2 separate regions of the Homo sapiens genome follow, and region 2 is linked to region 1. A link means that fine-mapping ties the variant in region 1 to the expression of a gene that starts in the linked region. Tissue or cell type: whole blood. Region 1 holds a variant in brackets; the other region holds the start of a gene. All regions are shown on one strand. Distances are from middle to middle.

Region 1 (8,106 bases):
TCTCTCTCTCTCTGATGTCTGTCAATTAAAACATTACCTGGGGGCAGGTAATGTCTTTCCCCAGGTAAGGGCAATTTCATAAGGTGCATGCTGGGTTTAATGCTCTGATGACATCGTCTTGAAATTCACAATAATTTTTGAACAAGGGTTGATTTGCATATAGATCCTATAAAGGAAGTGGTGGTCCTGCCTGGAGAATCCACGTCCCTATTGCATTTTCATTACATCAGAAGCATATATATGTTTATACTTGAGGATAAAATGAGAACTGTGTTGTACTGGAGAATGATGTTTGATGGCAATCAAGAGCCTCTTCTTCAGGAATAGGTGATTATGTGGTCGTTCCCACCGATCTTTGAAAGGGAAGGACCTAGGAACTGAAGCCAGACCCCCACCTCTGCAAGAGTTCCTTGCTGGAGTCACTCAGCAGACCCCCACTCTCTGGACTTTGGGGACATGAGACTGCTGAGCACCTCCACCAGAGGGAAAGTGGAAGTGGCCCCAAGAAAGAGGGAACCACGAAGCAGTTTCAGGTATCATGTCTCAAACAGTAAGAAATCAGAAAAACATAGGGCTGATCAGCTTTGATTGTTCCTTCTGTTTTGTCCTCCTGGACAATTGACTTCGACAAATACTTGCTGCATGAAAATAATTAAGATGCAGTGCCCGTCTTCAGTGAGTTTAAAAGGAGGATGCTGGACAGTAAGTAGTGTGCAAGATTAAATTAAGAGCTGTAAAAAGACAATACTAAATAGGCAAAGTACTTGAGAGTTGTTAGTTGGCATAAGAAATGTAGAGAGAAGTAGAAGTTCAGGGAATGGGGTGGTAATGTGTGTCTGGACTAGACTGGGCTTCCTAAGGCCAGGGACTCTGCCATATATATGCATGGTAGGCTCTCTGTCAGTATTTGTTGGGTGGATGGATAGGTGACTAGGACATTCCAGCTGGAAGGCAGGTTGGAGCCATATTGCAAATCTTCATTGCTAAGGAAGAGGTTTGTGCTTTATTTTGATAAAGCACTGAGGAGCCACCAAGTTTGTGGGATTTTATTCCTGTTTTTGAGTTATGGTACAGTGAGATTGGACCCATATTTTAAGGAGGAGTCATCAGAAAACAGTGGCATGTAAGGATTAGAGAGGCATTTTGAAATCAGTGTTTAAGGAGGACTTTGGCAGGGATGTGAAGGAGGGCTTGGCAGAGGGCAGGACTGCAAGACCAACAGGGTGGTCCCTAAGAGGTGGTCTTTGCTGCCACACCTCTGTCACCTCCTCCCTTTTCAGTGCCCCTGGTCACCCAGGTTACAGCAAACCTCTTTCAACTGTTTCCTCTCTCATGTCTTCCTGCTTCTTCATGTTGGTTAATCTTCTGAAGCACTGAGCACATCCTGCTGCAGACCTTGCAGAAATTTCCCATGACTCTGTCCTCTGCACTCCTCATCCTGATCTTCTAGATGCTCCACTACTTAGCACCACCCCTGCCCACCTGCCAGAATGGCCCAGCCTCTCCCTCCACCTGAACCTGTTTTAGTCCGTGCCTTAGCAATAGTGCACAAGCATATTTGAGTGTAAGTCTTTGTGTATAAGGTTCTAACTTGAATTGTCCTCCTTTTGTCCTTTCACAGTCTAAATACTGTTCTCTTTATTTAAAGGTCAAAACTTTCATGAAGTTATAGCTAACACCTGGCAGCATTGACAGCTCCCTTCTCCCTTTTTTTTTTCTTTTTCTTTTCTTTTCTTTTCTTTTTTTTTTTTTTTTTTTTTTGAGACAGATCCTCACTCTGTCACCAAGGCTGGAGTACAGTGGCGTGATCTGGGCTCACTGCAACCTCTGCCTCCTGGGTCCAAGTGATTCTCATGCCTCAGCCTCCTGAGTAGCTGGGATTATAAAGGCATGCACCATGACACCCAGCTAATTTTTGTATTTTTTTTAGTAGAGACAGGATTTCACCATTTTGGCTAGGCTGGTCTCAAACTCCTGATCTGCCCACTTCAGCCTCCCAAAACGCTGGGATTGCAGGTGTGAGCCTCCATGCCTGGCCAACATCTCCCTTCTTTGACTTTGGTGTCTTACGCTATTTCAGGTGTTTAATTTCTGTACTGCTTTGTGGTGTGGATAACTTCTGCACAATATATGCCTTAATCTCCATTTATGCTGTAATTTAGTGGACAGTAAATGTTCAGCTTACCTTTGGTATCTCTCCCAGCCCCTTGCATTGTGCAACACACATAACATTTCACTCAGTAAAACTTACGAATGAGTATGCTCATTCATATACAATATGAACGTATTGTTTATTTATCAGTATACAAAATCGGCTACTTTTGGAGTAATAGCTTTTTTTTTTTTTTTTGGGAGACAGAGTCTCACTGCAACCTCTGCCTCGGGTTCAAGCAGTTCTCCTGCGTCAGCCTCCTAAGTAGCTAGTAGTAGCTTTTTAATACATATTATCATTACTAATAAGGGTACTATCAAAGGATTTATGAAAGTCTGAATGAATAAGCTAGGACTTATTGTTATACCTTTGGATGTAGCCTATATTTGCACCCAAATAGATGAAGTCATATATTTTAGAGGTTTAATTTAAAGCCCCAGATATTACATATTGTCCTGTTTATGTGCGCGAGATTTAAATAATCAAAAGAGGTTTTAAAAACCAGAATTAGTGCTATTCTAAAATTCTCCTTTTCATTATACCAGAAATGCATACAGGAAGGCTATGGGTATATTAATATGCTTCTGATATTTTATCTTTCATAGTGAAAAGTTAAATTAGTAAAATCAATTTATTTCAATTTTACATTTATCTCATTGAGATAAAGCAATGGCAGGATATCTGGTATTTTTAATATGCCCTTCCAATATACCTTGAAAAATTTTTTTTTATTTTTTAGAGATGGGGGTCTCGCTCTGTTGCCCAGGATGGAGTGCAGTGGTATAATCATAATTCACTACATCCTTGAACTCCTGGCCTCAAGCAGTCCTCCCACCTCAGCCTCCTGAATAGCTGGGACTACAGGTGTGCGCTACCATGCCCAGCTTATTTATTTATTTATTTATTTATTTCAGAGTTGAGGTCTCACTATGTTTCTCAGGCTGGTTTCAAGCTCCTGGGCTCAGGTAATCCTCCTGCCTCAGCTTTCCAAAGTGCTGGGATTACAGGCGTGAGCCACTGTGCTGTGCCCGTCTCTACCTTTTAAATGTTATTTAGATACTGATGTAGTCTTGAAACCTGTAGAATGCTTTTGTATAGATACCCTTAATTCAAATGAGTTTGAATTAAAGTTCTAGCCTGAATTATATTTACACAAATAAAAGACTAGATGGATGAGCAACAGATGGATTTTAAAACAAAATGTAGCAAAACTCTCCCCAGACTCATGACAGTCAGGAGGCACAATTTCATGTTTATTTCACACTGTGAGACATCAAATACATTATTAATGTAACTAATGTGGTTGTTTCTTCAGATTCTGGCTGAATAAACCAGACATTTGCTTTTCTAAAGTAGGTATTTAGTTCTTGTGAATTTGAGGATTCTAAACATTAGCATCTTCTCCTTAACGTGCTCTTCTCTCTAACCAGTGTGGAAAGAAGAAACCCTCTGGTGGCCTTGGCCCGGGAATATGGCGGTTTCAAGTGCAATGCTGTACTGAAATGGTACCAGAAGAAGACAGAAGGTTACATGGTAAGGGACAATGTCAGCCAGCTTCCACCAGCCCTGGGCAGTAGTAGGCCTGTGCCAGTACATGTTCCATGTGTGCCTGTGCTTGGTGGACCAATATGCATGTAATTATCATCTTTCTGTTCTCCTAGACAGAGAGGCATATGCAACGGGAAGCCAGTTTGCACTCCCACCAAACATATGGGTGTATGCAGAGCTGCATCTCCCTAGGGAAGGGGGACCTTTTCCTTTGCTCAAAGTGTTACCGATCATGGGTTCTTAGGCTCTTGATGCAATAGAAATTCTCACCAGGCCAAAAGAGTTTTCCTAGCAAGGCTTTATTGGAGCATATGCCCAGGCACAAGGGAGGAAGCACAGGAGAGGGAGGATTCTCTGGCTGACTCCCTGAAATGAGCTGATAGGGATTTCTTTTATTAGGCAATGTGCGGAAATTGATGTCAAGGTAGGGAATGTGGGCTGGGCAGGGTAGAGAACGTGAGGGGGAGGGGACATGGGTCGGCTTATCTGCTGGCAATGGTTGTCTTGAGTAATGGGCCATCTGGTGCTCTGGTTAGTGGCAGCAAGGCTGTATGAATCAGTTGTTTAGCATTCCTTCCTGAGGTGGGATACTTGCAACCTTGGTTGGATATTTTGGATCTCCTAAGGCCAGTTCCTGTAATCCTTTAAGTAAAAGGCAAGGTTAAACATTATGAGAGCACC[G/A]AAGAACAATATAGAATGGCTGTTTTCTTTGCGTGACTGTTAGTGGGTATGGCATCAGTGAGGTAGTGGTGTGGGTTTTGTGATCAGTGGGAATGCATGAAAGAATGCTGTAGTGGGGCCTCCACCCAAGGAGACAGCTTTTGCTAAATTACACTCCCAAAGAAGAGTGCTTTGCCTAATTCATATAAAGGCCCTACATAAATGAGCCTCCAAAACTTCTCCAAATATTTTCTTTCTGTTGCTTTCAGAGTTGTTTGCATTTAGTTTAAAGAGTTTTTGTTTACTAGGACAGTATCTGTTTTCTGTTCAGAAAAGGAATTAATACCTGGTATAAGTTTAAGTTTTTTGTGCGTGTGAAACACTATACACAAAGATAAAAATGCACAAAATATAAACTATAGTGTTTTTTTTGTTGTTGTTGTTTAAGAGACGGAGTCTCATTCTGTTGCCCAGGCTGGAGTGCAGTGGCGTGATCTCGGCTCACTGCAACCTCTGCCTCCCGGGTTCAAGCAATTCTCCTGCCTCGACCTCCGGAGTAGCTGGGATTACAGTCGTGAGCCACCACACCTGGTTAATTTTTGTATTGTTACTAGAGATGGGGTTTCACCGTGTTGGCCAGGCTGGTCTCAAACTCCTGTCCTCAGGTGATCCACCTACCTCAGCCTCCCAAAGTCCTGGGATTACAGGCATGAGCCACCACTCCTGGCCTCAAATGATAGTCTCTTGAACTATGAGGAAGTGAAAAGTCACACAGTCACCACTCGCATCCAGAAGAAGAGCATCGCCAGCTCCCACAGACCTTTCCTACAACTTTCCCATCATAACCCCTCACTACTCCCTAAGATAACCATTGTCCTCAATTATTCTCCTTATGGATTTTCACAAAAGTATGCAGCCCTGAATATTATGTTAGTATTGCTTGCATTTGAATTTTATTATAAATGGAATTTTAAAAACTATGTAATTTTGCATGTATCTTTTTTTTTTTTTGGTTTTAGGGAGCGGAAAGTTTAATAGGCAAGAAGGATGGGAGAAGGCAGAAAATGGAGGCTCCCCTGTACAGAGACAGAGGGAGGGGAGCTTTTTTTTACACAGTATTGAATCAGTGAGATTTATTCATGTTGTCACCTATACTGTAATTTGTTCATTTTCTTCACCATTTAGTAACCCATTGTAGGATTATAGCATTATTTAGTTACCCATTCTATTATTGATAGATCGTTGAGTCAAGTCCAGTTTGGGGCTAAGGTGAATAGCGCTGTTATGTTCTTGTCGATGTCTCTTGAAACACATATGTGCTTGTTCCTGTTGGTTACATCCTTCAGAATGGAATTCCTGGGCCTTAGGGTATGCATACATTCTAGGATAGTACCAAACAGATGCCTGAAATATTTGTATAATTTATGTCTTTTCAGCAATTTATGAGAGGTCAATTTCTGTGCATTTTCATCAACACTTGGTAGCATCAGTCTTTTTACTGGAGGTCATGTGGGTAATGTGTAGTAGTGTCTCATTGAGGTTTTGATTTGCATTTTTCTTTTGGCAGTGGAGATTGAGCACCTTTTCATATGCAAATTGGCCATGTGGATAGTCCCTTTTGGGATGCACCTGCTCAGGTTTTTTGCCCACTTTGTTTGTTTGGTGGTGGGGAGCGGGGGTATTGGCTCTGTAAACAGCATATGAACTTTTGTCCATTTTAAGAATCAGATGTCATTCTCTTCCTTATTGCTTTTAAGAATTCTTTATATATTCTCCATGTAAGTCCTTTGTCAAATACATATATGGCAAATACCTTCTTCCAGTGTGCCTTAAATTTTCTTCTTTTGGCTCTCCCTCTGCCTCTGCCTCTGCCGCTGCCGCTGCCTCTGCCGCTGCCGCTGCCTCTGCCTCTGCCGCTGCCTCTCTTTCCACAGTCTCCCTCTGATGCCGAGCCAAAGCTGGACCCTCTGCCTCTCTTTCCACAGTCTCCCTCTGATGCCGAGCCAAAGCTGGACTGTACTGCTGCCATCTCAGCTCACTGCAACCTCCCTGCCGGATTCTCCTGCCTCAGCCTGCCGAGTGCCTGCGATTGCAGGCGCGCGCCGCCACGCCTGACTGGTTTTCGTATTTTTTTGGTGGAGACGGGGTTTCGATGTGTTGGCCGGGCTGGTCTCCAGCTCCTAACTGCGAGTGATCCGCCAGCCTCGGCCTCCCGAGGTGCCGGGATGGCAGACGGAGTCGCGTTCACTCAGTGCTCAATGGTGCCCAGGCTGGAGTGCAGTGGCGTGATCTCGGCTCGCTACAACCTCCACCTCCCAGCTGCCTGCCTTGGCCCCCCAAAGTGCCGAGATTGCAGCCTCTGCCCGGCCGCCACCCCGTCTGGGAAGTGAGGAGCATCTCTGCCTGGCCGCCCATTGTCTGGGATGTGAGGAGCCTCTCTGCCTGGCTGCCCAGTCTGGAAAGTGAGGAGCATCTCTGCCCGGCCGCCATCCCATCTATGAAGTGAGGAGCGTCTCTGCCAGGCCGCCCATCGTCTGAGATGTGGGGAGCTCCTCTGCTCTGCCGCCCCATCTGGGATGTGAGGAGTGTCTCTGCCCGGCCGCCCCATCTGAGAAGTGAGGAGACCCTCTGCCTGGCAACCGCCCCGTCTGAGAAGTGAGGAGCCCCTCTGCCCGGCGGCCACTCTGTCTGGGAAGTGAGGAGCGTCTCCGCCCGGCAGCCACCCCGTCCGGGAGGGAGGCGGGGGTCAGCCCCCCGCCCGGCCAGCCACCCCGTCGGGAAGGGAGGCGGGGGGGTCAGCCCGCCGCCCAGCCAGCCGCCCCATCCGGGAGGGAGGTGGGGAGGTCAGCCCCCCGCCCGGCCAGCCGCCCCGTCCGGGAGGTGAGGGGCGCCTCTGCCCGGCCGCCCCTACTGGGAAGTGAGGAGCCCCTCTGCCCGGCCAGCCGCCCCGTCCGGGAGGTGAGGGGCGCCTCTGCCCGGCCGCCCCTACTGGGAAGTGAGGAGCCCCTCTGCCCGGCCACCACCCTGTCTGGGAGGTGTACTCAACAGCTCATTGAGAACGGGTCATGATGACAATGGCGGTTTTGTGGAATAGAAAGGGGGGAAAGGTGGGGAAAAGATTGAGAAATCGGATGGTTGCCGTGTCTGTGTAGAAAGAGGTAGACATGGGAGACTTTTCATTTTGTTCTGTACTAAGAAAAATTCTTCTGCCTTGGGATCCTGTTGATCTGTGACCTTACCCCCAATCCTGTGCTCTCTGAAACATGTGCTGTGTCCACTCAGGGTTGAATGGATTAAGGGCGGTGCAAGATGTGCTTTGTTAAACAGATGCTTGAAGGCAGCATGCTCGTTAAGAGTCATCACCACTCCCTAATCTCAAGCACCCAGGGACACAAACACTGCGGAAGGCTGCAGGGTCCTCTGCCTAGGAAAACCAGAGACCTTTGTTCACTTGTTTATCTGTTGACCTTCCCTCCACTATTGTCCTGTGACCCTGCCAAATCCCCCTCTGCGAGAAACACCCAAGAATGATCAATTAAAAAAAAAAAATGTCTTCTTTTGATGAACAAAGTTCTTAATTTTAATTAAGTCTAATTTATCAGTCTTTCCTCTAATGGTTAGTGCTTTTTGTATTCTGTATAAGAAATTGTTTATTCATGGCCGGGTGTGGTGGCTCACGCCTGTAATCCCAGCACTTTGGGAGGCCGAGGCGGGCGGATAACAAGGTCAGGAGATCGAGACCATCC
Region 2 (8,106 bases), 80 kb after region 1:
CAGTCGTTCACTGAGCAGAGACTGAGGAGCCTCCTGGGATTGGGCTCATCCTCAGGAAAAGCGGAGCCAGTCCCAAGCTTGAACCAGTGACAAGTCCTTGGATGTCGGAGAGAAGTAGAACGTTGAGGTACAGTAAGAAACCCTTGTTGACTTCCAGAAGTGCTTGAGGGATTTTGTGGGGAGCTGAGGCCTGGAGAGAGTCAGCTGTTCTGAAATGTAGGCTGTGACTCCTGATGTGTGCCATCTTTATGTACAAGCCAGTGAGGCCTAGAGCTCTCAGGTTAGACTTAAAATTTCCCTCTGACACTCACACAGACACTGAGGGGCAATGTGCACTGTACTCTTTTCCTCTTTATTTTATAGAGCCCCAAGTTTATTCGGAGGGTAACATATTTGGGAAAGGTATGCCCCTTCCTCTTCCCCATGGAATAAACCATATTTGGTCAAAGCCAGGCATGATCATTCCATTTCCCTGTGCTCATGGTTGGTGTAGGGTAGCAAGTGATCCACGACTTCACCTCATGATAAACGGTAGGGAGGCTAGCCCTCTTCTGCATTGAATGAGGTTGCATGAGCAAGCAATGCTTGCAGCTGTGGCAGCCTTTTTGTAACCATGTGGCAACAAGCCTAAGAGGAAAGCTACTGAAGATGGCAGAGCAGAAAGAGAGAACCTGGGCCTGTCATGATATTTCTGGGACCATCTGTATGTCACCTGGATTCTGCTCTGGCAGTTGAGGCAGGATGAGAGGGGTGAGAGATGAGACGATGTGTACTAGCAGTCTGGAAGAGGTCCACGGAGGGTCAGTTTGTTCAGGAAGCATACCCTTCCACTTTCACCAGTGAAAGTCCCACTTGAGTTTCTAGGGCTCTAGTCCTAACCTAACCAGATGCTTTCATCACTGCAGTTGTTTTCCAGGAGTCAGGATCTAGAGGTAGTCAGATGGCAGATGGCTCCTCCTGCCCCTTTTTAGCCTGACCCTGTGAAGTAGATATTGTTATCCCATCTTATACATAAGAAATAGGGGCTTAGAAAGATTAATTGACTTGTCCAACATCAACAGCAGAGCTGGGAATCAAACCTGGAGTCTCTGTTGCTAAGACCTGGGCTCTGCTCCCTGCACACCAATTGCTTTCAAGACTAAACCAGCTGGGTGTAGTGGCTCACACTTGTAATCCCGGCACTTTGGGAGGCTGAGATGGGAGGATCGCTTGAGCCCAGGGGTTCAAGACCAGCCTGGGCAACATAGTGGGACACTGTCTCTACAAAAACATTACAAATTAACCAGGCATGGTGGTGTGCACCTGTAGTCCTAGCCACTTGGGAGGCTGGGGTGGGAGGATCACCTGAGCCCAGGAGGTTGAGGCTGCAGTAAGCTATGATCCCACCATGGTGCTACAGCTTCAGTGACAGAGTGAGACTCTTGTTTCAAAAAAAAAAAAAAAAAAGACTAAATGCCATGACTCTCTTCGGATTCCACCCTTCCTCCTCGTGTTTCCTGAATAATAACCTGTTAATAATAATTATTATAATATTTAATAATAATAATTGGCACCCCCATGGACCCAGTGAGTCCAGCTCAAATCCTAGCGTGGATCAGGGGTTGAAGGAGTCAGGAAAATGTATGATTCATTTCACAAAGACTTTGTGAAGAGGGGCGGGTTGTTGTGTGAGTCAGAGGGTACCAGGTGGGGCTGGGGTGGGGAGAGGACGGAGAAGGGAAAGCTTTGCTGGTGAGGGACACCGGGGACCTGAAACTCAGTGGACTGCAACACAGACGGGAACAGGGCACAGCCCTGTGCTGGAGACTTCCTACTTGGGTGCTATCGTTTGGAAATCTGTCCTCCCAAATCTCATGCTGAAATGTAATCCCCAGTGTTGGAGGTGGGGCCTAGTGGAAGCAGTGGAGCAGTTTCTGATGAATGGTTTAGTGCCATCCTTTTTAGTGCTGTCCTCATGATAGTGAGTGAGTTCTCACTAGATCCGGTTGTTAAAAAAGGTGTGGCACCTCCCCCCACCTCTTGCTCCTGCTTTCCCCATGTGACATGCCTGCTCCCACTTCACCCTCTGCCACTAGTAAAGCTCCCTGAGGCCCCTTGGAAGCCAAGCAGATGCTGGCACTATGGTTTACAGGCTGCAGAACTGTGAGCCAAATAAACCTCTTTTCTTTGTAAATTACCCAGTCTCAGATATTTCCCTATAGCAATGTAAGAATGGCCTAATACATTGGGTGATTCAGGGAAGGTTTCCTGATGGAGGTTGGGCTCTGAAAAGGGGAAATGGTGATTCTGGGCACAGGAAATGCTAGAGCAGAGCCCAGGCCCAGCAGCTGCAGGGCGTGCAGGAACCACTCATAGCAACCAGCCAGACACCGTTCGCCTCCTCTCCCTCTGCAAAATCTCCACTCACTCCTTTGGATATTGCTCTGACCATCCCCGCCCCGTCCTGTGACCTCTGCGGACTGGCATCCCAGCAGGATGGCCCAGCTCTCCAGCCTGGCAGCCAGAGCCTTCTCCACTAGGCCTTTTTCTCTTCACTCTCCTGGGCATGGCACCCCTGGGCAAACTCCTAACTACCACCTCTGCCTGGTATAGCTGGAACCACCCCACTGTGAAGCCTCCCTCACTCTGTAAAAGCCAGTACCCCAGGAAGCCTCCTCTAACCCTTTGCCCTCTGCCACTCCAAGGAAGTGCTATTGGAGGAGCTGCCTGATCTCTCTGGCCTTCTGTGTGGCAGCAGAAGTTTGTGTCAACTGCTGTGGGAACGTGATTGGTGGAGCAGGTGATTCCAGAACTCACGTGACCAGGACACGGAATGTGTGGGCTTGCCAATATTTTGATATATAAATCAACTGTTTTCATTATGGAAGTAACAAAACCTCAAGGGAAATAGAAAAAAAAATTCCCTGTAATCATCCCACCCAGCTAGGAGGTCTACTGTGTGTGTTTTTGACATTTTGCTGTCCTCGTTGGTGCAAGGGCAGATGTGACTGTTTATGCCTGTGGAGGGCAGAGGGGTTTTTCTTCTTCTTGTCTTTTTTTAGAGACAGGGTCTCCCTCTTTTGCCCAGCCTGGATGGAATGCAGTGGCATGATCCCAGCTCACTGCAGCCTCGAACCCCTGGCCTCAAAGGATCCTCCTGCCTCAGCCTCCCAAGTAGCTGGGACTACAGGCACCTGCCACCGTGCCTGGCTGATTTATTTTTTATTTGTTTGTTTAGAGATGGGGTCTCCCTACATTGGCCAGGCTGGTCTTGAACTCCTGGCCTCAAATGTTCCTCCTGTCTTGGCCTCCCAAAGTTTTGGGATTATAGGCGTGAGCCATGTTGTCGTCATTACAGCTACATTGAGATATAATTTATGTGCCACACAATGCATGCCTTTCAAGTGTACAGTTCAGTGGCATTGAGGTATATCCACAGAACCGTACAACCATCACCACATTGAGAAAATTTTTATCACCCTAAAAAATCCTTTACAAAATCCTTTACCCTTTAGCAGTCACCCCATGTTTTGATTTTTGCTTTACATGATTTTACAAGCATCTTTTCCTGTTGCTGGAAAATCTCCTTACCCATCCTCTTTGGTGACTGTCAGCAAAGGCTTTCGGGTGGTGAAATAGCGTGGCCAGGAGTGCTCTAGAACAATGGTGTTGGTGAGGGCTGCAGAAGCTGAGGACCCACAGGCAGAGAGGGAGGGATGGTAGAAGCAGGTGGTGAGGAGGGACTCGGGGCAGGACTTTGGGGGTAAAAGGAAGCAAGTCTCTGGAAGCAGAACCAGCAGCACTGCTGATCATTGGGACGTGGAGAAAGGCGAAGGCTCAGGGTGTCAGCAAACTTCCTAGGGTGGGTGAGGGTTGCCAGGTCAATAACGAACAGGGTCCCAGGAAAAGGCGGCAGCACAGGTTTGGGGAGAATTAGAGATGAGCTTGGTTTTGGTCTTGTTGGATTTGGGGGCACCAGTCTCTCTCCTGGCGAGAGTCGGCAGTGGGGTGTTAGGATCTGGCCCTCAGGAGGCTGTTAGGGCTGAAGCAAGAGATTTGGGAGTTAAGGGTGTGAGGGCCACGTGGGAGGCCTCGGGAGCCTGTGCCGATCCAGGGTGAGTGTGAAGGAAAGAAAAAAGAGGGCCCGGGGAACACTGGTATTTTCGGGCGGTGGACGAGGATGGGACGGCCACGAGCTTGTCTTAAGGTAGAAGGCAGAGCGGGGCCGTAGGGGCAGTGGCGCGGGCGAGGGTGGAGAACAGCGCTGAGCCTCGCTGGGAGGCGGCCGGAGGGGGCTGCAGCCCCCGAGGGCTCCTTGCAGTCCGGCCCCGCAGCCTGGAGACAGCTCCGGTGGTGCTGCGCTGCCCGAGACTGCTGCACGAGCGGGGACTGCGGCCTCGGCTCCCTGCCTGCCCGGCAGCCCCCCATCCAGTCGGCCTGCCCGGGGTGCGCAGGGTTAGCCTGGAGTGAGCTCGCCCCGCCCGGGGTTGCGCGGCCCTGGGGGGTCCTCTCGCGGCGGCTCCTGGGACCTGCTGGCGCCCCGGGCAGAGCCCGGCCCCATCCCAGGAGTCGCCCGGACTGGAAGGCAGTGCGAGCACTGGGACACAGCCTCCGAGCTCGAGCGTGACGGGAAGTTGGGGCAATTTGTTAGTTATCCGCCGCCACCAAGACGCGGCACGGCGCCTGGACCGGAGGGGCCCCGCGCGGGCGCGAACTTTGGGCTCGGGCGAGTGGGTGGTGCTCCGCCCAGCCCGAGACGGGCGGGCGCGCGGGCCAATGGGTGCCGCCTCTTGGCCGCGGGGGGCCCCGACCCGTGGGTCCCGGCCACCAGCGCCCCAGCCCCGAGGCTCAGAAGCGGCAGGCGGAGGCGCGGTCCGGGCGCTATGGCCATGCCCGGCGGGTCTCACGCGGCTGCCCCTCGCCCGGCGCGCCTTCGGTAGGGGGCGCCCGGGGCCCAGCTGGCCCGGCCATGCTGCTGGAGACACAGGACGCGCTGTACGTGGCGCTGGAGCTGGTCATCGCCGCGCTTTCGGTGGCGGGCAACGTGCTGGTGTGCGCCGCGGTGGGCACGGCGAACACTCTGCAGACGCCCACCAACTACTTCCTGGTGTCCCTGGCTGCGGCCGACGTGGCCGTGGGGCTCTTCGCCATCCCCTTTGCCATCACCATCAGCCTGGGCTTCTGCACTGACTTCTACGGCTGCCTCTTCCTCGCCTGCTTCGTGCTGGTGCTCACGCAGAGCTCCATCTTCAGCCTTCTGGCCGTGGCAGTCGACAGATACCTGGCCATCTGTGTCCCGCTCAGGTGAGGCGCTCGGCGTCGCCCGAACTCGGGGCCCCGTCGGAGCTCCGAAATGGGTCGTCTTCTCCAGGCCGGGGTTCCTCCCTCGGGGGCCCCAGACGGGCCAGGCTGGGGGCGCGCGGGGCGCTTGGAGGGCTGGTTCCCAGCCTGGCCACCCCGCAACGCTAGACCAGTGCGCCCGGGCACCCAAGACATCCCAGATGCGCGTCGCTCTAAGGAGATCTGCGTAGGGACAGCTCTAGGGGGTCCGGGGAGTGCGGTCCCCGGCGCCCGGGGAGGCGCCGTGGAAACCCCGGGGAAAGCGTCACCCCCGGGGAAAGCGTCACCCCCGTGGGCGGGTGGAGCCCGGGGCGCGGGAGTTTTGGTGATCACATCTCCACTCCTGCCACGAAGGCCGTTCCTAACACTCGCCCGCAGCGGCGGTGCAGCGGCAGTCCCGTGAGTGCTGCGGCTCCCGGAGGCCCGGGAGGTTCCCACTAAGGGCAAGGCAACTTTGGACGCTGGGCATTCGCACCGTCAGAATGGACACGCATGAGCCAGCTTCAGAACGTGTCTGCTGCGGAGAGGCGGCCCGGCCCATCCCAGGGGAAGGTGTCCGTTAACTTTGGGGAACGCTACGGACTCAGATTATATACTTTTAAAAGGAGTTACAATGCTTCCTCGTGTCTGGCAAACGGCCTTACAGCCTCACTGCCCTTGTGTAACTATTTATCTCCTGCTGCCCTGTTGGGAGCGGGCTGAGAAGTGCAGAAAATGGTGGCGAACTTACTTGTCCACTCTTTCTCCCACACTGAGAAAATCTAGGATTCAGGGGATGGAGTCAGCCAGCGACCAGAGTGGATTCCCAGTTGGAGCTGATGACTTCAACATTGAGAGTTTGTTGAAAGTATTTATTCTCTGTCTTTGGTGCCTGGGCCACTTTGGCATTTCTGAGGAGAGCTTGAGATCTCTTTAAATTTGGAGCTGAGACAGGGAAACTAAATCACAGAGTAGGAAGGAAGGGAAGGAATTCATTTATTGGGTGCCAACTCTGTGCAGACAGTTTATAATAAACGTGTCCCCAGCAGTCCTTGCAGTAGTACCAGAGGACGGGTGCTGTAACCTTCATCTCGTAGAGGAGGGGTGATGGCCCAGGGAGGTTGGAGTCTTGCCCAGGATGGTGTATCAGGGATGGGTGTCAGAGCCGGGGCTTGAACTCACAGCTGGCACCGTGTCCCCACCCATGCCATCAGGCCACTCTGCAAGGCCATGTGTGGCACCGTGTTTAGGAGTCAGGGAGAAAAGTGCTCTGCTGTTTTGGGAGGAGGAGCCTGCCTGCAGTAAACTGGTGGTTGTAGGGGAATGTGTTTGTGGGAATGGAGCCGGAGAATGCTCCCAGAGGCCATTTGAGTAGGCAGATGTGTTGGGCCTGGTCCTTGCAGGTTGTTTCGTGGGTCCCAGCAGGAACAGGAGCCTCCTGCTTGGGAGGGCTGTGAGCCTTATGTGGGTGTCTGGCCACTCCATGTGCTGCTGCCCGTGCTGTTGGACCAGGAGGCCTTATGTCTCCCATCAGGTGTGACAGCCCAGGGATTTCCAAGGCTTAGGGAGGACAGCAGTTTCTTCTCTCTCTTCTGGATCCCTTCCCTGCCTTTTGGTGTCATCGTTGTTACTTGATGGCATTTTGGATGTTTTGCATCCAGCAGAGCAGTCACAAGCCCCAGCCTGAGTTGTCCATCTAATGGAAACCCCTTGGACTTGCCCTGGCAGAGACCAGAGACCCAGAGAGGAGTTAGTGGAACAATCTCCCAGGCCACAGGGAGCAGGAAGTTCCATGAAAGTTTAAATCTGTTCCTTCTTGTCCTGGTTTGTGCTGGGTGAGGTCTTGAAAAAAATGGGTGTGGGTGTGTTAAGGGGAAAGTGCTGTGAATCACAGGCCCTGAGCTTCTTTGCATTGCCAAGGGCAGGAGGGAAGAACACTGAGGCTCGCCCCATCCTGCCTTCCTGGCCCGTCCAGAGCTTGGAGGTCTGGAAGAGGTGCACAGGCAGTCCCCAGCTCCCTGCCCCAGAGTTAGTCGTCTGACCTGGCCACAGCACCACCCCAACCCTGGTGGGTGGGAGAGGTGTACTAGGGCCCCCAGGGCTTCCCTCTCAGGGGCTGGTGCCTGGGGCAGGCCTTCCCTCAGCTGGCCTAGCAGTTCATGGCCCCTTGGGAAGAGGTTAAAATACAGATTACAGGGCCTCACCTGGTTGTACTGAATCAGAATCTCTGGAGTGGGTGTCGAGGGGATTCCAGCAGTGGGATCTTTAACCAGGGACATTTGGGTCCAGCGATCTAAGAATCCTCCTAGATTCAGGGCCTGAAGCTTTCCTCACTTGACTGACACAGGCTGGGTGCATGGCGCCCCAAGCACTGACTTGGCCCTGAGGCCTTCCTGGGGTTGTGGAACTCCAGGTGAGAGTAAAGTTGGAAGTGCCCTGTTTGGGAGGAGGTGTGTCCCCTTTGAAGCCAAGCAATAAGGAGGGTGAGGTGCAGGGAGTGAGGGCTAAAGGCTTAGGCTAGGACAGTCCTGGGACCTACCCCCAGTTCCTCCCGGTTCGAGGGCTCCAAGTGTGAGGCCTGTGGCCGCAGAGACCACAGCCCCCACCTGCCACCGCATTGCCAAGGTGTTTACTGATGTGACAGATGACAGTGTAGAAGGGAGGGGAGCCGGAGGGAATGCCAGGGACAAATATGACGCCCTTGGCCTGGCCCTTTGCCTTCAGGACAGGGCTGGCCACAAACAGAAGTCCATTGCCTCTGGTTCAAGTCCATAGACAATTCCTGATGTTGGGCCCTGGCGGCGGGGG

The links. PIP is the estimated chance that this variant, and not a neighbour inherited with it, causes the effect.
Region 2: ADORA2B starts here. The variant in region 1 is fine-mapped to the expression of ADORA2B in whole blood (TOPMed, PIP 0.93).

The regions. Positions count from the first base shown.
Region 1 is chr17:15,860,473-15,868,578 of GRCh38, forward strand. It overlaps a transcript of ADORA2B not described here. Among named protein-coding and RNA genes, the nearest start is that of LINC02087, 47 kb to the left of the region's middle. The variant G/A (reference allele first, on the strand shown) is at 4,382.
Region 2 is chr17:15,940,301-15,948,406 of GRCh38, forward strand. ADORA2B (adenosine A2b receptor) reads left to right here and starts at 4,830. Exons shown (of 2, transcript NM_000676.4): 1 at 4,830-5,283. The coding sequence starts at 4,949. RefSeq lists a silencer at 4,386-5,005 and an enhancer at 4,833-5,647.